Linked DNA regions of Homo sapiens: regions 2 and 3 are each linked to region 1. The links come from fine-mapping of genetic effects on gene expression. A gene starts in region 1. Each other region holds a variant in brackets. All regions are shown on one strand. Distances are from middle to middle. Region 1 holds the start of ADTRP (androgen dependent TFPI regulating protein). Region 2 overlaps ADTRP (androgen dependent TFPI regulating protein). Region 3 holds the start of LOC124900221 (small nucleolar RNA SNORA67).

Region 1 (8,184 bases):
AGTCAGTGAGCTCGTTTTAGACGTATGGAGTTTGAGGCGTGTCTGTCTCCTTCAGGAGATTCCAACAGGTAGTCAAAGATGTGTTTGAAGCTTGGTGGGGATAGGGAGAGGGCCTGGACCAGAGGTATATAATTTGTGGTCACAAACTGGAAGGCAGTGGTAGAAATTATGATCATGGATAAAATCACTAGGGTGAGTATGTGTTGGGAGACGGACGGTAAGCTGGACCAGCTCTCTGGGGAATGCCAACACAGAAGGAGCTGGTGGAGGAAGAGGAGCTCATTAAACAGACTGAGAAGGATAGTAAGAGCATGTTGGGAGAATAAGCCTTGCTCATACGTGGCTTCCTTAGGGCTAGCTTCCCTGACGCCCTACCCACACCAGGTCTGATACTGCCATCCCCTCTAATAAGTCTGCTGTGTTTGTCCTTCACAGAAGTTGCCATAGTTATAAATTAACACTTGTTTTTGTTGTTGCTTAATGTTCATCTTTCCTGCTAAAATATAAGCTCCATGAGGGCAGGGTTTGCATCGCTCTTCTTCCTCGGGGAATCCCCAGGACCTAGCAGATAGCTGTTGCTTAATAAGTATTTGTGAAATTAAAGAATCATGTTGCGGACTCCCAGGGGGGTAGAGAGTTTCAAAGAAAGTCACTCTTAGTAACCAAGTGGCCTGTGTAGTATCCAAATCAAAGTATGAAATATGCTTATTTTTAAATGTTTAAAATTTCCTGTGTAAAATAATAAAAGTTTTGAACAATTCCTTCCCACTTCTCCTGGATATGACGTGAAGCCCTCAGATACTTGGAGAAAGGAAAAGGCAGACAAACAGCACGCTTAGTATGTATTAGTTTATAACGTGCAACTAAGAGGTGACATTCATTGCTCTCCAAAGCTCCACCTGGTCTCATGGTGGGGAACAGATGTTCAGGCTACTTCATGAAAATGGATCTGGTTATTCAACCAGGAACACAAATTATGATGTGAATATGGTTGCAATGTAGATTTTTCATTGGCAACAATTTTGTGAAAAGTTTATAAGAAAATGCAGATGTTGAATTAAGAAATAGTTTTATTTCTTAAAATATTAAAATATTTCTTAAGAAATAAAACTATTTCTTAATTCATAATCCTTAACTCATAATGTAATCCTTATATACATATATTACATGTAATTATTAAATCCTTATATACATATACATGTTATTTATTAAAATATCATTTTATTAATTATTAATATGTATTAAAATGATATTACATGTTATTAAATCCTTATATATTAATGTCATTATTTATTAAAATGCTAACAATTCATTGGATCCCAATGTAAAACACTAAAACTCTTACAAATAAATTTAAATAATTTTATCAATATTTATGAGAGGCCCCATCTGTGGGCAATGAGGCTAACGTAGAGAAAAAAACCATCTAGGTGGTGAAAGGCCAGTGTCCAGGTTTGGACACACACATCTCAGAGATTTGGGTCTTTGTCTTCCCCTCCTTTCCTACCTTTGCGTCAATCCTTACCCATCTGCAGACTTAGACTTGAGATTTTTTTTTGTATAAAGGAATAAAACCTCTAAATCAACAATGGTGTCTAAAATGAAAACACCCTTGGAGACATTCATTCATTCATATGTGCACCAAGTTTCAAAACATATTGATCCTTTTCTGAGATAATTTTCTGATGAGAGGAGAGAAGAATAAAAGGGACTCGGCCGGGCTCGGTGGCTCACGCCTGTAATCCCAGCACTTTGGGAGGCCGAGATGGGCGGATCACGAAGTCAGGAGATCGAGACCATCCTGGCTAACACGGTGAAACCCCGTCTCTACTAAAAATACAAAAAAAATTAGCCGGGCGTGGTGGCAGGCGCCTGTAGTCCCAGCTACTCGGGAGGCTGAGGCAGGAGAATGGCGTGAACCCGGGAGGCGGAGCTTGCAGTGAGCCGAGATCGCGCCACTGCACTCCAGCCTGGGCGACAGAGCGAGACTCCATCTCAAAAAAAAAAAAAGGGGCACTCAGTAGGGAGAGGAGAAATATCAAAGTGGGAGTCTGAGAGTGTGCAGAGCAACATTGTTCCTTTGTAGGCAGGTACACTGGTTGTATTAGGGTTCTCTAGAGGGACAGAACTAATAGGATGTATGTATATAAGAAGGGGAATTTATTAAGAAGTGACACACAATCACAACAACAGGCCGTCTACAAGTTGAGGAGCAAGAAAGCCAGTGGTGGATCAGTCCGAGTCTCAAAACCTCAAAATTAGAGAAGCCAACAGTGCAGCCTTCAGTCTGTGGCCAAAGGCCCGAAAGTCCCTGGCAAACCATTGGTATACATCTAGGAGTCCAAAAGCTGAAGAACTTGCAGTCCGATGTTCGAGGGCAGGAAGCATCCTGAGAGCATGGGAGAAAGATGAAGTCCGGAAGACTCAGCAAGTCTAGTCCTTCCACGTTCCTCTGCCTGCTTTATCCTAGCCACGCTGGCAGCTGATTAGATGGTGCCTACCCAGACTGAGGGTGGGTTTGCTTCTCCCAATCCACTGACTCAAATGTTAATCTCCTTTGGCAACACCCTCACAGACACACCCAGCAGCAATACTTTGCATCCTTCGAACCAATCAAGTTGACACTCAATATTAACCATCACACTGAGTTCAGACGGCAGCTCTGCCTCTTACAAAGTGTTGAACACATCCTTTTAGCAGATCGGGCTTCAATTTCCTCATCTGAAAATGTACTTAATTCGTAATAGTACTTACCTCATAGTGTTATTTAGAGTGCTAATCAGCTAATATGTGTAAAGCAACTGGAACAATGTTTAGCAAACAGTAAGTACTATAAAAGTATTAGCTTCTGTTATTATTTGCAATTTAGCCCAGGCTGTGGAGTTTTGTACAGAGTTTTATGTACCCATTTCCCAGATCACCCCTTCCTTTGAGAATGGTTTGCTATGGTCTATGTTTGTGTTCCCTGCAAATTCCTATGTTGAAATCTTAACTCCCAGGGTGATGGCATTAGGAGAGGGGAGCTTTCCGAGGTGATTAGGTCATGAGGGCAGCATCTCCATGAATGGGATTAGTGACCTTATAAAACAGGCCTCAGGGAGCTTGTTTGCCCCTTCTACCACATGAGGACTCAGCCAGAAGGCACTATTTATGAACCAGGAAACCGACCCACATTAAACACCAGGCACTCTGTCAGCATCTTGATGTTGGACTTCCAGCCTCCAGAACTGAGAAATAAATTTCTGTTGTTTCCAAGCTTCCCAGTTTACAGTATGTTGTTATAGCAGCCCCAACAGATGAAAAAAAAAAAAAAAAAAAAAAACATGGTTACAATGCAGAACTCCATGGCGGGCTCAGGTTTGCTCTCCTCCCATCTCCCAATCCTGATATTGGGAGTCTGTTGACTCTTAGGAGGTGGGTTTGTTTATGGTTTGTCCTCCTTGTCCAGCCTACAGTTCTTTCTGCTAGTACTTTTAAGCCCTGGTTAAGTCATTGAAAAGCACCAATTACAGACTTACATAACTGTGTCAGGAGCATTTCTCTGAGGGATTTGCTCACCCCTCGGAGTCAGTTGCCCAGGGAAACAAGCTGGCGATGTCACAAGGCATCCACTTCTAGTTCTTCCTCAGTTCCCTTCTGTGGAACCTGAGTCAGAGCCTAGTCCGGCATGCTGCCTAGCCCAGCCACGTCTCATCCTATTCATGGCAGAGCGGGGACTCTCACCCTCTCCCAGCAATGTCTAAAGTCAGGTATTTTGGGGTCATGGCCATAGTAAGGATGGTCTCCTGTGCTGCTTCTTCCCTCCCAGGGCACAGAAATGCCTATGCAAATGGAGTGTCTAGGACAGCCCTGGGTTACTCTTGGTTCTCTAGGGTATAGTTACAAAAGTGAAAAAAAAAAGAAAAGAAACCATTGGAGCTGCTCCCTGGAGGATCAAAGGTTGTTGCAGACTTTCTAGAATCTCAGAGACCTCAGGAGCAAAATTACAACACACTTTTCCTTTCTACTGTTCATGCCCTAAGCACACCCATGATCTGGTTTATCAACCTGCTCCTCCTTTTCTCAAGAGATAAGGTTGCAACTTCCTTGTTATATGCAAATGAAAAGAAAAGAGACTACAGCCATGGAAGTATTTCGCTAGATTTTCCTAGTATTTCATGCTTACTTCATTTAACCATGCCCCTGCCCCAGTGCCCTAGTGAAACAGTACAATGTACAGCTCTTGCATTGCTACCTGCCCTTCTCAAAGCCCACATGTTGTATTTTATGCAAATCTACAGATTATCTATCATTATCTAAATGCAGGCATCTGAAAACCAGCAGTAATCCTGCCTCTGAAGTTTATCAGGAAAGGAGCTTAAAAGAGAACCAAATTCAGCCTGTGTTGGAACTCTCAGTCCCAGAGGGGTGTGGTTTGTAGCTCTCCGGCCTGCTGTTGGACTTAGGCTGTGACCCACAGAAGGACGCCAGAAAGTACTCAAGACATTCACGGTGCCCCGGTCAGCACTCGCCATGACGAAGACTTCTACATGCATATACCACTTCCTTGTTCTGAGCTGGTATACTTTCCTCAATTATTACATCTCACAGGAAGGAAAAGACGAGGTGAAACCCAAAATCTTGGCAAATGGTGCAAGGTGGAAATATATGACGCTGCTTAATCTGGTAAGTCCATATGTCCGTACCAGGAACCGATCCATTTCTCTAGAATATCAGTGCTGCCACACATATCATCTTTGGATTTTATTAAATACACAATTTTGTTATTTGTCTTCCTTCTTCACCGTTTTGTGAGTTTTGGGTTTTTTGTTTACTTAACAATTTGCTCTGATAAACCCAATTTGGAAATTATCTATAGTTAACATTTCTATGCTGGCTCATTGTTAAATGCTCTCTTGAAAAAAAAAATCTCATCTTGGAGCTCTTTTCAGATGAGCTCAAAGAGGGGACCATGCTAATGGTTTCACCATGGGATTAACTACAAATGCAGGAGGCATTTTGAACTTTGCTTGGGGAAGTCTGTGAAGAGAAGGCAGAGTGGCGTATGGTGTGTAGGAAGTGTAATTTCCAATGAAGGAATAATGCCATTTTACAGCACACACAGACTAACAGATTTATCTAAGAAAAGCAAACACATTTTGCCATGTTCAGCTCCCACCTCAATTTTTTATAGGTTCAGGCTCCATCTTAAAGGACAAATCACCCAACCGAATGGCAAATACACATTTTCAACTATTTAAAAACCAATCTTATGACTTACTCCTTTCTTGTCTTCCTAACCTGGCTGACTGCATTCTGATGAAGTGTGAATGAATGGGAGAAAAGCAGATTATGAAAAATACTTTGAGGAATAGCTTAAAAAAATACTTTTAAAGTTAAAAGCTAATAATGGGGAATCATTTGGGGATGTGAATTAATATTTGAGGTTTTTGACTAAAATCTTGGGTGCCACATAAACATCTGTTTTCAGAATTGTAATCCTCATTTGACAAGCGGAGAATGTATGTGGTCAGAAACTGTGACACTCTGAAATGCTAAGGACGTGGAAATGGAGAGAGTTAAAATCAAAGAGGCCCAAAGTGGCTGCTTCCTCCTCACTGGTTGGTTAGTGGCCTCTTGATTTGGGCCTGAAAAATTGGAACCCTGAACACAGCTCTAGTGTCTTTGAAAACTTCAAGGTGACTACTTGTTTCAATCATGGAATTTTATGAGAAAAACAAACAGAAACAAAACAAAAAATGTTTTTTGTATAACTAGCAGTGCCACAGTAAACAACAACAACAAAAAACCACACACACACACGCGCATACACACACACCCCTAAGGTTTGTGTCTCTATTGGCTTTCTATGAAAAACAGTCCACTAAAAGGGAAGTGTGTCTGTAGTTAGGACTGACTTTCTAATAAAATCCAATTCCAGTATGAATGTCCTACCTCACACTATGTGTGGCTAAGAATAGATTTATCACCACACTCATTAACTAGCTCCCTTACCTCTTTGTATACACACACACACACACACACAACTGATCCTGACTTTTTAATTCTAGCTCACCTACATTTCCAAGAGCCCTTATTTTCCAAGAGTGAGAAAAGTCTCTTATCTTGTCAATGATACTATCATTTCCTAGTGTTAATCCCAATTTTGCTTCCCTGATTGATCAGCTACCAAATCCTATTAGTTTTTCCTTTTACTAAGTTCATCCTTTCTTCTTCAACCTTACTACTGTCTCTCTCATTCCAGGCTTATATTAAGCCTACCTGGATGACCATATCATCTCTTTACTGTCCATTCATGGTCCAATCCAGCCACTTAGATTCCAAATTAATCTTCTCAAAGCACTGGTTTTGGTTTGTTTTTTAATACCATGACCTGGATCTAAAAGTGTGGCCTGCCGCTCAGGAAACCACAGTGGCTCCCTCCTGCCTCATGGACCCAATGTCAAACTCCCGATTCAAGAGCTCACCTGCCCAACCAGCCTTTCGGGTTCCCTCTCCCTGGGAGGCTGGTCTCTTCTGCAGTAAGGACTGCGTCTCACTAGTATTGGTCCTTGGGCTTCCTGCTGTCACTTCTCTGCCCGGTGTTCTCTCTATCCTTAGAAGAAAGGCCTACTTACCTCTCTCCACCACATTGCTTCTTTCATAGAACATTGGGAATCACATATACTCCTCCCAAATCCTTGCTGACCAACTCCAGTCCAAATTTCCTTTTCCTTTCTCTGATTTTCACAGCATCTCTCAGTCTCTGCTGATTTATATGTAGTATTGTTTTCTAATTCCCTCTCTCCCTGCCATGTGAGTCTTAACATTCCAATCAAACTTTGGCTCCAAAACAGAAGTTTTTTTTAATCTTAGGTCCTTGCCAACCCTAACTGTCTATATTTCTACCTTGAATTCAGCACAGTGGCTGGCACAGGATACCCAGATATTAAAAAGCTGCGACTTGGTACGTTGACGTGACCTCAGCCTTTCTGCATCCTCAAGCAGTCCCTCTCTTCTGGTATCTTCTGGCCCTCGTAAATAAGCTGAGAGGGGCTTGCCTGTGGTGATTTTCTTTCTGAGCTCCATTAGGAGTCATCTTGAAAGTGTGACCTAATGAAATGCTTCCCAACTGGTGAAGATGGGTTGAGTGTATTTCAGAGGATCGATTTAATGTAGATTTCGAATATGTTGCTTAAGGTGAAATATTGGACCTGCAAATGTCTAGCTCTTGAGATTCATGGGCTGATTAATGGTTGTGTCTCCTAATGATTAATTAGTGTTCATTCATGACTAATTAATTGGTGGTTGTGTTTATTAAGTCATAAAGGTCTCACAACTTACGCTCACATTCTTATATTTATTTTACCTCACCTTGGGGAAGTTAGTATCCAGTCCTGATTACCAGAAAATTTACACCCCTCCTCGTAAACAGCTTGAATTTCTAATTGGCTGAGTATCATTTTTGTCCCCTTTGTAAGAGCAAAGCCCCCTTTTGTGCCAGTTGGCACTGTGAGCATTGCCCCAGTTCCCCTTGAAGCTATCCCAGGGGACTGGAAGGGGAGACAGACAGGAGACAGGAGACAGACACGAGTTGCACTGAGCTACTCCCCTGGGGTTGGTGGTAGTGGCTAAGGTGCCATTGAGAATTGGTCAGGGTGACCCATTTCTGACTAAGGAGAGTGAAGGTAGGAGAGGACAGATGGGAGTCTCTGCCTAATAAGAGAGTAAACTGACCTCAGTGAAGGGGCCACTGATTCCCTGCTGGGAGGGAGAGGTGGTATTTCACAATGGTTACAATTGCGATCTCTGGGATGGTACCTCAGTCCCACTGCTTACTGCCCCCGAGACCCTGGGCTAGGCACTTCTTTGTGTCTTTCATTTCCACGTCTGTCAAATAGAAATAAAAATAGTACCTAACCATAGGGTAGCCATGGGGGAGAAATGATCTGACAGGTGGGAAGCGCTCAGAATGGCGTCAGCAGGGTGTTAGGCAGTGGACAGTGGGGAGAGAAGATGGGGAGGTGATGGTGAACTTCTCTGGGTAGAGAAGGTGATGCAGGAGGGTGACTTAGTAGAACATCAGTCTCCTCACTGAGCACCTAGGTTGTTGCGGGGTGGAGGCCAGCAGGAGTCATCCACCCCCTTCCCCTTCATGGCTACTATTTCTCCCTCCCCGAGCTGCATGCCCCATCTTCCCAGCTG
Region 2 (8,184 bases), 60 kb after region 1:
CCTGATGGGTTCTCTTCCCCTGCCTGGGTACCAGTACCTCATTAATCCTGATGAGAAAATGGCTTGTTTTTCTCCTCCTGCTATAACCACCACGACTTCTTATTTCCTGCAGCATCCTATGGCTCTACTTTGAGACGGGTACCTGGGTGTATCCTGTGTTTGCCAAACTCAGCCTCTTGGGTCTAGCAGCTTTCTTCTCTCTCAGCTACGTCTTCATCGCCAGCATCTACCTACTTGGAGAGAAGCTCAACCACTGGAAATGGGGTCAGTGTATTTCTTTCTTAGCTACAGATGCGCTTCTTCCGTGTCTGCCTCTCCCCTTCACCTGGAAACAGAAAGAAAAACTAGCCGCAAACAGAAGCAATGATGCTTACTGTCTTTGTCCAAAGTACTCAGACAGGTCCTGCCAAGAGGTCCTGCCAAGGCAAGAGGACAGCGTTGGGGGTGGGGCACTCTTTTAAAGGACCCCATCAAAGGATCTCCCCTCCTCCCCCAAACAATGTGTCATTTAACTTTAGAGCTAAAAATAATCTTCTTTAGAAAGCCCAGGACCTAGAGAACAAGGTATTACCATCCCTAGCATGAATAAATAAAATCAGGGGTCTCCCCCTAACCCAAGTGAGGGCTCCAGGGACACAAGCTTTGAAAATATCAAGGTTTCATTTTGAGGGAAGTGAGTCCAGATAGCCCTCTCAGCTCCTCCCACCTCCTCCCAACTCAGCAGTACCTCATTAGGCTGCTCCTCAGCCTTCCATAAGACATTTACCAGATGAAATCACATCCTAGACTTGAGATTGAAATCCTCATTCAGACAGAGTCTTCAGCAATGAGAATATGTCAGTAAGTTAAGCTTTCTCGTTATAGGTGGGTACAATCCTGTTGCTTCTTCCTAAGAAAAAAAAATCATCTTAACTTAGTTAATTTTAAAATGGAAGATTTCATTCTCCTTCCTGCTTCCTCTCTCCCCACCCCACCCCAGAATATTTTTTTATTGTTGGAAAAGTAACTACCAGAAAGTCAGGCTGTAAAACACCCATGACTTGCTTCCCTACCCCAGGAGAAGCGCAGGAACTCTACCCTGATTCTGTATATAAGGATGGCAAAGAGTCACACCCAGTCCCCCACATCACTCGCCCACATGCCATTCTGTTCTATCAAAATAGAGATGGCAGAAGTGCCATCTTCCGCCCAATCTATGAACTGGTGTGAAAACATAAGCCCGTGTATGCAAAAAAAACCTGACAGTTTCAGAAGGTTCAGTACCAGAGTGTGCGTTTCTGAGAGGAAGCTGAGACCCTGGAGAAATAAGCACGCAACTTGGATGTATCACATGTTTTCTACTCTTGGAGAATTTGACTGGTTTAAGAAACTCTCAAGGGCAAAATTCTCTTTGAAAGCAAACACTTAAAAAAATGGAATACTAAAAATTACTTCCCAATCAGGATTCCAAATCACAGAAAATTATCGCAAAAAAAAAAATGTGTTGACATTTCAGATGTGTTGACATATAATTCTAACTAGTTTTGGCTCCTTGAAGTTCTGGGTAAAGATTTCTGATGCCTCCCCAAATCTCTCTCTCTCTATATATATTTAAAGAAGCTTTAAGATATAGGAAGTACAGAGAAAAACTTGATTACTTAGAGCTTAGAGAACAATAACTTTTAAAATCAATTGTATTGAGTTCAATAATGTATTGAGTTAATTTTTAAATTGTTACTCTATGGTGAATTTTAAACATCCATTGAATTAAAAAACAAAATTATCATCATATTTATTATTATTGAAATTACTATTCTCAATACAACGTTCTTAACAAGCCTCATTGTTTAAGTACTGCATCCAATTTTTAACTATAATTAGGTCTCAATAAACAGATAAGCTGGCATCATATGGACCCTCAACTACCTCATGTACATGCAAGTTTTCAAGTAGAAAGAGACGATTGTAAATGACTGTACTTACCTCTCGAGGTCTTTCTAGATTTTTAACTTTTTAAAGAAGAGAAAGGGTAAAAGGTCCTATTTAACATCAGAATAAGATCAGAAATGTATTAAATCTTGAACAGATCTTTATTAATTATAAATAATTTAATACGAATTAAAGAAAAATTAGATTTGTTAAAGTTGCAATGCAGTGAACACTTTTACATTGCTGAAAGCTAAATAACCTATGTGAACACATTTCCCCATGTCCTATTCTACTGAAAACACTTTCTAAGGCTTCCCCCAATTGACTGAAGAAAGTCCACACCCTTGGAATGACACACAAGGGCCTCTGTGACCCAGTCCCTGCTTTGGCTTTTGCTCTTCTATATGTGTGCCCCAGTGGCACCAAACTGCTGGTTTTCCCTCCACGTTGATGTTGTTTCTTACGTCCACGGGATTCTGTGTCTCCTCCAGTCTTTGCCTGGTTCATACTCATGCATTTCAACACTCGCCTCTTCCAGGAAGCCTTCCCTGGTCAGCCCAGGTTGGACTTCATGCCCTTCCCAGTGCTTCCCCCTTTACCTCCCAGTCACCAGACTTACCATTTTATCATGACTGCGGTTTTACTACTGCTTTAGGGATTTGTTTTTCCACTAGACCTCGGGTGTCTTACGAATTAGGGGTATGTCTTGTTCATCTCAAGATCCACTATTTCCATTAGCTTTCTCGTTGCCTCAATCAGTGCAGACAATAGAATATCCAAGGGCCTTTTTTCCTAGGTGTAAAGTACAACTTTTTGCAAAGGTGTTCTGGAGACAGCAGATAAGGAGTGACTCTAATGGCTGTAGAGTATTGGGCAGGGAGTTTAAGGAGTATAGGAGGGTGATGACAAGGCGTACCAGTTAGAGAGTTGTTGAAGACATGCATGTTAGGGCAGAAAGTATTAAACAGGGGAAAGAGCACTGGAATAGGAATCAAGAAAGCCACGGTAGATCGAGACCATCCTGGCTAACACAGTGAAACCCCGTCTCTACTAAAAATACAAAAAATTAGCCGGGTGTGGTGGCGGGCGCCTGTAGTCCCAGCTACGCGGGAGGCTGAGGCAGGAGAATGGCATGAAACCAGGAGGCGGAGCTTGCAGTGAGCCGAGATCGCGCCACTGCACTCCAGCCTGGGTGACTGAGCAAGACTCCATCTCAAAAAAAAAGAAAAGGGTATATCCCTCACCTGGCCGCAAACCAACCATGTATTCTGTGGCAATGCACTTCAATTCCTCAGTGATCAGACAGCCTCTAAGTAGAGTGACCACCAAGCCCAGGTGGCCTGAGATGATCCCTGTCTATTCCTGCTGTGCCAGTATTCATAAGGTTTAATATTGTCTAGGCTTGGGCACTCAGTTGACTGGTTCCCCTACTAGTGAGCCTTTCTCCAGATCTTCAGTTCTGGAAACTTATAGATAGCCACGTATTCTGTCCAAAGCCAGAGCTAAGCCTATGTTTTCCCTCCTTCCACAGCCTGAGCCCCCTTTGATGACAGGAGAAATTCAAATGAATGCTTTAGGGAGGCAGTCGGGGGCTGTGGTTAGAAGAAAAGTTCTGGTGCCAAACTGCCTCAGTCTCTATCTTGGCCCTGCCACTTGTACCTGTGACACTGAGTGAGACACTGAAGGTCTCTGTGCCCCAGCTTTCTCTTGTCCTAGTGGAGATAATGCTAGTGGCCTCCTCCTGGGCTCACGGAGAACCTCAGATGACTTGCTGAGGATCTAGCGCCTACAGCAGGACCTGGCATACAGTTAGTCACTGCTGCTGGTCATCTTATTCTCCCTCATTCTCCCCTTTGAGTTGATGTATAAATTACCAGTTTCCCAGCTGCAAGTGATTAAAGGTAACAGCTACCCGATAGCAGACGGACAGAGATGATGCACGTCCTCAGGTACTTACAGCAAATAGGAGGTCAGGCTATTGGAGGCTAGAATCTGTTGGAATCTCTGCTTCTGAAATCCTGAGACACAACTGGAATCTCTGCTTCCAGTGGCCCAATTTGAAGTCACCAGCCAAGCACCAAG[C/T]GGTCAAGAACATCAGGCGAAGTATCAGTCAAGACCCATTCAATGTGACAGTAGCTCTCTAGCAGTAGTTCTCCACCTTGGCTTTTTACATCACAGAAACACTAGGGAAGTTTAAAAAATAATAATTCCCAGGCCTGCCTTAGACCAATTAGATCCATATCTCTAGAGATGGTGACTCGACATGGGTATTTTTTAAAGCTTCCCAGTTATTTTAACTTGCAATCGGGATCCGGAACCGCTGTTACAGAGCAACGCTTCTCAAACCTGTATAGGCCTCTGATGCTCATCAAAATGAGGATCTTGGGGAACCCGGAGATCTTGTTAAAGTGTGGATTCTGATTTAGTGGATCTGGGGTGCAGTTTGAGATTCTGCCCTTCTAACGCATACTCCAGACATACTGATGCTGCTGGTCTGAGGACAAGGCTCTATTACATCTCAGGACCCTGGACTCCTCCCAATGTGGATAATTCTGTCTACGGCATCCTTGTGCAGTGTGGTGCTCTCCTGAGTGGGCTGCTGGACTGAGAAGGGTGTTGGTGGTGATGGTCACAATAGCTGAACATCTACTCACTTTCTCCCTCCTCCTGTGCCACATCAGTGGGTGAATATGGACAAGAGAGCAAGAAGGACAGCAATAAGAAACCATACTGGGAATCACATGTTAAATTGGAAAGTGTATGATGAGGTCCTCCCAGGGCACTCAGTTGCAGGGAACTGGCTTTGAGCGTCAAGGAGGCAAGTGTTGTCATGGCCCACAGGAAGGTCCTTCAAGAATGCACTGAGGCTCAAAAAGCTCACAAGAGGTTCCTCAGGGCCACCTGGCCTGACCTGTCACCATCTCACTCCCTGCCCTGGGCTAGCCTTTCTGTGTCATGAGGCAGAGGGTTGGGCAAGCACAGAGTCAGTTACTGGGACCAGTCATCCCCCAAGAAAGATTCAATTTCTACTTTTTGGGAGGAGTTAGATGGAATGTTAACTTCAAACCATGATAGAAGCAGATGGGGGAAGCTGTCTCTGGCAAGACATTGAGAGCTTGGCTCACCATGACCATGACTGAACACCCAGGCATGCCCAGGGCAGGTTCTCTTCCACATTGACTGGGGGCAAGAGGCAATCAGGACATCCTATCAAAGGCTCCCTTCTCTGCCCCTTATGTGCTTAATTTTCTTTTTTTTCTTTGATGATTGATAGCACACAAGGATGCTGACACCAGCACACAAGCTCCTCAGGAAGAGAAAATCATCCCACAAGAGATATGGGGCACAGAAAGGGGCTAAACACCTCCAGGCCCAAATGGCAGGGCCTCTGCTATGTGGGGGTGGTTGGAGAGACAGTCAGCTTATCCAGGGCCTGTGACCCCTCTCCCTATGCCCCTTGATGGACACATGCCAGGAGTCAGGCTGTCCTTTGTCAGGGCCCCTAAGACCATAGGTCCTTCTCATCCTAAGGACAGACTGTAAGCTGAAAATTCCAGCCTGGCCAAGTGGCGCTGGGAGTGTGTCCTGGACAGAATGACATGGAAACTTTCTTTTAATATTATTTGCCATAAACCAGGTTTTTTAAAAGGCAGATTTTCTTGATGAAAGCTGCCTAGAGGCCATCTAATCCACCTCCTTGTTTTATTCATGAAGGAATTAGATGAGGTTTGTCTTATTAACTCTGCTTATTCCATAGCAAAAGAATTTTATCATGCGATGACTCCACAGGTACTTCTAAAGCATGGTCCCACTGGGGCAGCATTTAGTCAATGGCAAAAATTTATCTCCATTTTGCCTTTCTTGTCCTAACTTCATCTCCCTAAACTCAAAAAGAGCCCGCTGTGGATTACCCTCCCTGCCTCTTCCTCAGCCTCTTTCCCACAGGAGTTTCTCCAGCCAGCCCTCAGTTCCCTGTCCTCCCTGGACTTCTGCAGTGTGAACACAGGACTATCAGTGCTCAGATCTCATTTCTCTAACACCTGCTATCCCCCCAACCATCAATTTTCTTGCCCTTTTCTGAGTCAGCCCACTGAAACTAGGCAAATGTTCTTCAAATTTTCAATGCCTGGCATTCATTTTTGTGGTTGTAGATACATAGGTGTAAATCTTTGAGAATACTATGTTTTTATTTATCCTGATTTCTAACTATTGGAATAATAAGGCATATAATTATATATGGTATCTATGGTGATGTTGATTGAAACAATAATTTCTTGGCCATGCCTGCAGTTTCTGTTCAGATCTTGCAAAGATGGAGGCTAGAATCTGTTGGAATCTGCTTCCAGTGGCCCGATTGGAAGTCACCAGCCAAGCACCAACTGGTCAAGAATATCAGGTGAAATATCAGGGCTATAAAAATATTTCTAGCCCTTGCTACTATCTGACAGCAGTTAAAGGAATAAAACAAGTCGGGGTGAATCTAACTTCCTATCTGCCAACTAGGATACTTTCTACTGGGAAAAATGCTTCTCAATCAAGAAAATATTTATAATAAACATAATTTTCCAATTACAACTTAAAATCCATTTTGTGAATTTGGTTTGGGTAAGATATATGATCTATTATTAAGTCAACAGTTTCCTTATTTCCAGCTATGCGTTATAGAAACATGGTCAGAAGGCTGGGTGCGGTGGCTCACACCTGTAATCCCAGCACTTTGGGAGGCCGAGGCGGGTGGATCACTTGAGCTCAGGAGTTCAAGAGAAGCCTGGCCTACATGGTGAAACCCCATCTCTACTAAAAATACAAAAAAAAAAAAAAAAAGCTACGTGTGGTGGCGCACACCTGTAGTCCCAGCTACTCGGGAGGCTGAGAGGTGGGAGAAACACTTGAATCTGGGAGGCAGAGGTTGCAGTGAGCCAAGATCACACCACTGCCTTCCAGCCTGGGTGACAGAGGAAGACCCTGTCTCAAAAAAAAAAAAAGAAAAAGAAAAAGAAAAAAAGCATGGTCAGAGATAAATTTTGAAGACTTAAAGAAGCCTACAAACTGCTTAGCTCTGTGAGAATTCAAGACTAAGACCCGCTTGCCATTCCCAGCTGCTAGAAGCAAAAAGAAACATGATTTTTGCAACGTTCACGCCACATGAGTCCCTACAGAATAAAATGACTTTGGGAGCACCACAGAGACCCATTTGGGAACAGTGCCTTCTCTAGCATGTGGATGGGTATGTGGGCATTTCTGAGTGTTCCTCCTAGCTACTTGGTTTTGGACAGAGGACTCTAATCCAATGGAGGGAACCACCTGCTGTCCTCCCCCAGCAGAGCTTCATACCACCATGTCTGCTCCTGGGTGGCTTTTCTCCAAACCTTCGTGTTCTGTTGCATTTCTTAAATGGAGAAGGGAGTCTTCAGTCCTCAACACCTGGGGTGGAAGGACTGAGGTTATTATTACAGTTAGGCTTGAGGGCTTGGGGATTGGTAAACAACATGGATAAAAGAAAGTTTTAGGAATCCTCAGAGTGACTGCGGGGTAGAAATTTGAGAAGTTTATATTGACCAAGTTTATATTGTCCCTCTTGTATGTGAGCTGGTTATTTAATTGAAAAAGAATTCATTAAAGGCCCAGAGTATACTCTACAGAAAAAGGAGGTACTGTGCTTGTACTTATAGACCTAATGTAGAGAAGCCCTAACTAGGGAGGAGAGAATTCACATCAAAAATGGAAAATAAGGCCAAGGGTGGTGGCTCTTGCCTGTAATCCTAGCACTTTGGGAGGCTGAGATGGGAGGATCCCTTGTGGTGAGGCCAGGAGTTCAAGATCATCCTGAGCAACATAGTGAGACCCTGTATCTAATAAAAAAGCAAAAAAAAAAAAAAAAAAAAAAAAAAAAAAAAAGCTGGGCATGGTGGTGTGCACCTCTAGTGCCAACTAGTCAGGAGACTGAGGTTGGAGGACTTCAGCCCAGGAGCTCAAGGCCGCAGTGAGCTGAGATTGTGCCACCGTATTCCAGCCTGGGCAAAGACCTTGTCTCAAAAAAAAAAAAAAAAAAAAAAGGGAAAAACAGAAGAGAAAGAAGTAGACACACCAATGAAAACAACGTGAAATCCATAAAGCTTGATAAACAATAAGCCTCGGCTGAAGTGACTGGGGTAGTCTAGATTGATGAGGAGCAGACGAAGAAGACAGAGTTTTGATCTTGAAAATTTTGCATGAGATGAATACAAGGATAGCCATGAGGACTGCATGATCAAGAGGTGGCCATCCTAGGAAATC
Region 3 (8,184 bases), 70 kb after region 1:
GGATGGGAAGTGATAGAATTATAAGGGCTGTTGAGATTGCTTTGCTACAAAGCACTTTTCTGAATTAGTGTGTGGTTTAACAAAGCTGATTTCCAGATGCTTAACAAGGATTCATGATCCCTGCTGTGATTTTCCTAGTGTTATTTTCCTGGCCTTTATTTGTGGGCACATTTTTTAAAGAACACAAATGGCAAATGGCTATTGGTGGGTAGACATATTTGAGTCTACTAGTATGTCACTAGGCTCATATGGGTTGGGGTGTGGACACTGAAGGAAATTGGACTTGGACTTCCCAACCTAACATTATGTAGGAGAAATCTGGTAAAAATGAGCAAGAGTGGTCTTGAAGGGTTACAGAAGAGGACAGAATATCTCAGGTGGGAAGGCAGCCTAAGGGAAGACCAGGGCAGGCACCAAGAAACCTGCTTAATTCCCACTTCTTTTTCTACTGTTCTGTTAATATGGGCCTCAAGTCTTTTCCAGTTGGAGCTGGGAATACCACCTCTTTCCCCACATCTACTGCTGCCTCTTCACTGCTCCAAGCACCTGGTCTCAGCAGGAGCTCAGAAACAGTTGCCACAGTGGAAATTCCCCAAACGTGAAGCCCTCGGGGGATCACCCAAATGTTCCACACCCCAGAGGTGACTCGGGCTGCGTAACTCTCAGTCACAGTAAGCTCTTGGTGGGGATGAGCCTGCAAATTTCTATTTGTGGCTTTACTGGCCCTAGGACCAAATTAAACCTTGATTGCAGCATGCCTGGCCATTGTGCAATATCTCTTCCAACACTAGAAATGTCTCGGAACAATTTCCCATTGAGCACATGCCTAAGCACACAAGGGCATGCTCGGTGCTGCAGTAGCTTAAGAAAAGATACACAACAAAACAATAACACACTGATTAAACATTTGCTAAAAGGTATATGGTATTTGCAGATTGCATAGCACTATGTTAGGCCCTTAATAGAAAATGACAACTATAGCAACCACATGATGATACCAGCAATATTTGTGTAGTGTCAAGTAATTCATCACCACTCCCACTTATTCTAGCCCACGGAAACTTCGTAAGTAGGAGATGAGTTACGTTCTCATTTTACAAATGAGCAAACTGAGTTTCTGAGGGTGGTGTGCTGGGAAAGGTTTAACAACCAGCTCTCTGGGGAAAAGATGTCAGGCTCTGATTGATAATGTGTGCTCATTTCCATGGTGTAAACACTCTCCCCATGGCCTTTTTCAAGCTGGCAGCACGTTGCTGAATGTACAGTTGGGAAGAGATGTGGACAACCACTTAGTCCTCGAGAGCCTGTTGTGCAAACTGGCTCCAGCACACCTCTGCGTTCAGAGCAGGGAAATGACAAGTCCAAGGTCACATGGATAGTTGACTCCTGAGCCCACTTTCCTTCCTCTTTCTTACAGAGCAAAGCAGTACCGGGTCATCCAAAAACTTTATTTAAAAAACAAAACAGAAATGTGTCCACATCTTGCAGAGCTGGACAAAAGAAGGTGGTCAAGAGATCCCAAATTGGTGGAAACTGTCCCCGTTACAGGAGGAGGAAGGACGCTGCCACCACTACCCCAGGGACTGGCCTATACTCATGCTTCTGTTCCAGTGTTGCTGTCTCACATTTGAAACCAATTTTGAATTTGGGTAGAAGATTCGTCTTGTTGCCTAAACAATGCCTTAACCCCATTCTCTCCCCAGAAGGGTCCTACATTTCTTAAGCTATTTTCAGCTCCTCCACACCTACTCACTTGCAATACTTGTCATAACAGGAAGCCAGTTTCATATACTGTAATCCCCAAACACATTGCACCCACACGTGGGGAGCGTGAGGGGCTGAGCGAGGAGCGAGGAGGCCAGGCCTTCCAAAAACTGGAGGGGCTGAGCACTGAGCCGCTCCCAAGGTGGGGCGTCTCCACTCCCAAGCCCAGGATTCAGAAGCCAGAATCCACATCCAGACATTCTTGTTTTCCTTTCTCATGCAGTTGCTGGTGACTTTTTTTTTTTTAATAAAGCATTTGAGTAGGCAGCAAAGCCAGTCAGAACTGTTTATTTATAGCTGTGGATATTCAATGCTGTATAAATTAGAAATCGTTGCTGAATGAGGCCCGCGCCCACTCATACACGCAGGGCCGCTATCTGTGAGTCCTTTCACAGGGTTTGACTGTACACGGTCTAAAATGGGAGAAAATGACATGCTCCGAGTCAAATGACGGAGTCACAGCTAAACGGCAAAGCAGAAAACCAGCAATTATTTTTCCCCAGCACAATATGGGGAGTACGACAGGTGCAATTATCCAATATTATTTAACAGTACCGGTTTGTGATGTAGGGAGAAAATAAAGGTTTCCGTGTCTTGGAGAGGAAAAAAAGAGAAAGAACATGCCTTGCAGCTCCTGTTTCTATGGATTAAGCTGGGTTATGTACATGGAAACTGGCCAGGATTCCAGAAGGGGAAGGGAGAACCGCCTGGCTCCCTGGCCCTTCCTCCCAGGAGGCTCTTGAGGAGCAGCACCACAGGGGGCTTCTGAGCAAAGGTGCCCCCAGCCTTGGGATACTGTGGCCTGAACACCCTCTTCCCCAGGCAATGGCTCCAGGTAAGACTGCGGGGAAGACTGGGTTTGCTGAGCCCCTGTCCGCTTAGAAACAAACTTCCCTCCTGCTTTTGACTCTCTTTCCCTCCATTGAACTACAATGAGGTCAAAGAGCGTGTGATGAGAAGGTGATCCACAAGGAATAACTTTCAGCCCCTTAACCAGGTCCCCTTTCCCACTTCCAGCACGTTATTATTCCTCCTCCCAAGCCTTTGCTTAAACTGGTCACACTCCCTAGAAAGACCCCTCTTCTTGTAGCTACTGTGGAATAAATAAGTCAACCTTCATGGCTTCCGACCTCACTGGAGTGCCACTTCCCAACTCTCTGAAAAAGCTTTTCCTTGCCCCTCCGGGGCATTTGGCCGGCTGCCTTCTCTCAGTTCTGCTAGTTAACAGCTAATCAGCTTCACACACTATGCCATTGCTCTCTCCTTCACGTATCCTCCTGGCTTCTGTTTCTGGAATGGTATGGAATGCCATGCCGACTAAAGAAAACAGTCAAGCTTTTAAAGAATTAAAGTTAGTTGTATTCAGAAGTCTTACTGAGGACTACAGACCAAGGCCTACAGCCTGGCAACAGCCTGTCAGATCCTATGAGACTGCTCCAGCCCAGGATTTCAGCCCACTGCTTACAGACAGGAAGTGGAGGTTCAGTACCTGCACAATCACATCAAATTTGCTCAGAATTTCCGTCGCAGCAGAATCCCATCAAGGCTTGGGTGTAAGAGCGCATC[C/T]GGTTGTAGATTACAGAGGCATAAACACTAACCCTGTTAAAGGTTTTGTCTTCAAAGCATCTTTCCAAACATCTTCACAGTCCAGGGCTTTTGTGAAATTCTGCTGGCAAGCAGAAGTGAGCAAAAGGTGCTTCTCATATTTGCTCCTTTGTCTCACAGCTGGAAAGAAGAGAGGCTTCAGAACCAGACCAGATCTGAGTTCAAATTCTGACTCCCATGGCTGGCTATCTGTATGGAACCTAGAGAAAATCAGTTACTTTTTAGAAAAATGTATTATTCACTTTTTATTTGTTTAAAAATATATAACAACTTCAGCATGTGAATAAGAGGACACAGTCTATCCAGAAGGAGCTTAAGTATGCTATGTAGGCCGCCAGAGGAACGCAAAAGAAGTAAGCATCCCCTGTTCCTTAAAGACCTTAGGCATGCCAGATTTTATTCCAACTTGCTACTGTCCTAAGAGAGGCACTAGTCAGCCCCTTGGAGAGAGACTCACCTTGGATAAAAATAGTTTACTCCTCTGAGCCTTGGTTCCTTGTCTGCAAAGTTAGATAATGATACCACCACAATTAAATAATAAGATTATTTAAAGTGGTGGATGCAAGTGCCTGGCTCCCAAGATCTCCGTCTGATATAGTTTGGGTGTTGTTTCCTCGAAATCTCGTGTTGAATCATGATACCCAGTGTTGGAGGTGGGGCCTGGTGGGAGGTGTTTGGATCATGGGAGTGGATTTCTCATGAATGATTTAATGCCATCTTCTTGGGGCTGGCCTCGCCATAGTGAGTTCTGGCGAGATCTGGTTGTCTAAAAGTGTGTGGCCCCTCCTCCTCCCATCTCTCTTGCTCCTGTTCTCACTATATAACGTGCCTGCTCCCCCTTCACCTTCTGCCGTGATTGTAAGCTTCCTGAGGCCTCCCCAGAAGCCCAGGAGATGCCAGCACCATTCTTCCTGTAAAGCCTGCAGAACTGTGAGCCAATCAAACCTCTTTTCTTTATAAATTACCCAGCTTCAGGTATTTCTTTATAGCAATGCAAGAATGGCCTAATTCACCATCCCACCTGCTTGATTGCAAACTCCCGGGATGAGGGGCCGTGTCTACCTCTTTATATCTCCAACAAAGCCTAACTCTGCACCATTAGAAAGTACTCAAAAATACAGGCGGACTTGAGGATTCCTTATAGCTTCTTAACCTTACAGGCATCATCACCAGTTATCTTCCACCCTAGGCTTCCCTGGAAGCTGATAGTCTCAACATTAGAGTTATTGTTTCATTTCAGATACTCTCTCCATCTTACATACCACAATTCTATTTACAGTGACGAGCAAATTGCAGTTTCATGTGGACTGGTAGTGAATGAACATTGATAGAATAGGACGCATAGCAGATACATTTGATGAAAAGGAGAAGGAGATGAGGAGTGGCCTGGAGGATAAATGGCTTGCGTGCAGGGAAGCTCTAGAGTGGATGACTAGATGGCCCTAATGACTCAAAGGAGAGCCTATGAGCTACTAGGGTCCCAGTCCGGAAGACTGATCCTTAAACAGGAGGTGGGGGGATGTTGAAGACAAACCTTGTTTACATCATAATTCATTTCACCTTAGGTGACTTCTCACCCCTTCCTGACGGATGGCAAGTGTTTATCATTAAGGCCCAGTCTAGTCTGACTAGCACATCATCGTTACCATGATGTCGTCAGCCTCTTGCATGGTGTAGTTATTTCGGGGCCATGAAAAGGGCCTCTGTTCTCACTGCCACCCTAAATATCTTGCTAATGTACAAAAAAATTCTTTCACCAATAAAGCCGCCCATTTCATATGGAGAGCCAGATTTAACATGTAAATACTTCTGAAAGAAGTGACCTATGAAACTCATGCATGTTCAATTCTCAGTGAAGGATATCTGATGATTTGAAAGCAAGTTTTAATGTGAGGGAGGGCGTGCTTGGCAGAGCGAAAATGAGGATATTGTTAGTAAAGGAACAGGTGCGGAAGGGTCAGCTGCAGACTCCAAGGACAAAACTTGCCTAGTTCATAATTTTTCACCGTGTGAGCTGCCAATAGATGCAGGTTATGATTGTTCTGCACCCCTCCCTGAGAGAGCTACTTGGTGGGTAGAGCACCCCAAAATGAAGTTGGCCCATGATTTTGGCAGCTGGTAGGTCAACTAAATTCTGCGTGCCCTTGGAGGGGTGGACAGAGGGGACAGAGCTGTGATGTGCCACTCTGTTTCCAGCCTTGATTATCTGGCTGGCACTACAGGAATTTAAACTTGCTTTATGTCTTTTATTTATTTATTTTTTGAGCCGGAGTCTCATTCTATCACCCAAGCTGGAGTGCAGTGGTGCAATCTCGGCTCACTGCAACCTCTGCCTCCCAGGTTCAAGCAATTCTCATGCTTCAGCCTCCCAAGAGGATGGAATTACAGGCATGTGCCATCATGCCCAGATAGTTTTTGTATTTTTAGTAGAGACGGGTTTTCACCATGTTGGCCAGGCTGGTCTTGAACTGCTGGCCTCAAGCAATCTGCTTGCCTCAGCCTCCCAAAGTGCTGAGATTACATGCGTGAGCCACCACGTCTGACCTGCTTTGTGTCTTGAGAGAGTAGTGTTGCGTTGCCACCATGCTTTTTTCCCACAATTTAAACGTGTGTTTGTTGGTAGCATAAATTAATCTTTCTTAGACTCTTAGGTTCTACATCCTCCAAATTTCAACATCATGGTTTTTGTTGTTGTTCAAATTACTATGATTGCTCATGAGTTTGTGTGTATGAGTGTGTGTGTGTGTGTGTGTGTGTGTGTTGTATTTCTGAAGTTCCGTGTAGATATTCAATGCCACTTTTTCATTTTCTCGAATTTATGTTGGAGAGTTGGTGCTACTCTCATCAGGGTCCTACGATGATTCTGGAAACAAAGACTGGATAACATGAATGGCTCCATGTAGAAGCTTTGGGTATTGATATTTCTCAAATTTCCCTCAAAATGCATGAGTATGACAGCTTTTCCTACCTATGAGTTGTTGCCATGCTTAAGAAGAAAGAAGACAGAGCAAAGAAAAAATTAGGATTCCTGGGCTCCTGAAGAACCTCAAGCAGTATTGAGATTCTCCAAGATCTCTTTTTATCCAGACATCTGTCTTACCAACCAGTCACAGAGATACTGAAGTGCTGAAGAGAGGTGGACACTTATTAAGGGCATATTTTGTGTTTCTTTGAGGACAGGAGTATGTCCTACTCACCACTGTATCTCCCTCATTGAGCACAGTGCGTACCATATGGTTGACTTTAAATGCATATGTGATGCTCAGATGGATTTAAGTAACACGCTCAGTGTCTGACAGTGGCATTGGAATTCAAATCAAGATCTATCTGACCCAAATGCCTCAAATAGTTTCCACTCCACCAACAGTGCTCAATCTTTCTTAAGTGATACCCTCAGAAATACATTTTACATCATAATCCAGTAGAAACACACACACTCATAACACACACACTTGTGTGAAAAGTTTCATAAACTCATACTTGCTTTTAATATGGGTGACATACCCCTTTATTTTCTAGGATATTGTTTCCTATTCCATTAAAATATGTCGTGACCATGAAATTGATGTCTTAATCCAATAATAGTGTTATTAAAAAATAATGAATTTCTTAATCCAATAAGAAATTAATGGATAGGGTTCAACTTAGTTCAGTAAGTTGGACAACACTGCACTCCACCACACTGTAGGGTTCGTTCATTCATTATACAGTGCCTACTAAATGTATGTCCCTGGCCATATGCATGCCATGGCCTGAGTGTAAGGACATGGTGGTCATCCACCTGGCATTTGCAGGCCTGTATGGAGGATTGCATGCTTTCATCTTGCCGCTCCTTTGGGACGCCAAGCCTGGCTTTCCCAGCTTCCTCTGTTAGCAGCTGCTCTGCTAGACTCAGCTCCTCTGAGATGCTAACAGGAAGAAGAAAAAGATCCCTTCCACCGTAAGAGCTTACAAAACCTTCCGCTGAGGCTTAAGTCTGGCCTGAGCAAATATATTTGGTTACACTTTAGGGATTTGTTTTCACTCAACACTAAATTTTATTAAGATTCTAATAATGAAGTTAGATGACATAGAGTTAGGAAAACATGTACTGTATGACTTTTACAATACCTTGCCAGGAATCTGGTACGTGATTCTGAAGACTCCCATCTAGACATGTTTTATTCCTTATTAAAATTTTTCTAGCTACATTCTAAAATGCACTTATGTTGTCATTTTATATATATACATTAACTGAACTTTGCCAATTTTTTTTTTTTTTTTTTGAGATGGAGTTTCACTCTTCTTGCCCAGGCTGGAGTGCAATGGCACAATCTCGGCTTACTGCAACCTCCGCCTCCTGGGTTCAAGTGATTCTCCTGCCTCAGCCTCCCGAGTCGCTGGGATTACAGGCGTGTGCCACCATGCCCAGCTAATTTTGTATTTTTAGTACAGATGGGGTTTCACCATGTTGGTCAGGCTGGTTTCGAGCTCCTGACCTCAGATGAATCCACCCACCCTGGCCTCCCAAAGTGCTGGGGTTACAGGCGTGAGGCACTGCACCCGGCAACTTTGCCAATTTTTAAAATCATGTGGTTAAATAAAATTCTCTTTCTTGCAAAATAGATTGCAGTATCACTGCCAGTATTTCTCCTTTTCCAGACTCATCCTGCCATCATGACCTTTTATTGCCGTCACATATCACCAAACTAAGAGGAAGAGGCCAAAAGAACTGCTGGACACCAATTCAGAGTTTTCCCACTCAGCAATGTGGATTTCCATGTAATCCTCAAATCAAGGGGAAGGAAAGAACCATTCCAAAATGCCCTGCCAATT

Evidence for each region.
Region 2: its variant is fine-mapped to the expression of ADTRP in whole blood (TOPMed, PIP above 0.99).
Region 3: its variant is fine-mapped to the expression of ADTRP in whole blood (TOPMed, PIP above 0.99). The same link has a PIP of 0.9 or more in blood mononuclear cells.

Annotation. Positions count from the first base shown.
Region 1 is chr6:11,775,088-11,783,271 of GRCh38, reverse strand. ADTRP (androgen dependent TFPI regulating protein) reads left to right here and starts at 4,469. Exons shown (of 6, transcript NM_032744.4): 1 at 4,469-4,665. The coding sequence starts at 4,513.
Region 2 is chr6:11,715,429-11,723,612 of GRCh38, reverse strand. It overlaps ADTRP (androgen dependent TFPI regulating protein), which reads left to right. Exons shown (of 6, transcript NM_032744.4): 5 at 113-264. Among named protein-coding and RNA genes, the nearest start is that of ADTRP, 59 kb to the left of the region's middle. RefSeq lists an enhancer at 200-1,399. The variant C/T (reference allele first, on the strand shown) is at 3,991.
Region 3 is chr6:11,705,468-11,713,651 of GRCh38, reverse strand. It overlaps ADTRP (androgen dependent TFPI regulating protein), which reads left to right. Exons shown (of 6, transcript NM_032744.4): 6 at 1-129. LOC340184 (a long non-coding RNA gene) reads right to left here. Exons shown (of 3, transcript XR_001743973.2): 3 at 3,253-3,569. It overlaps LOC124900221 (small nucleolar RNA SNORA67), which reads right to left and starts at 3,833; the gene lies at 3,692-3,833. RefSeq lists an enhancer at 1,963-2,012. The variant C/T (reference allele first, on the strand shown) is at 3,331.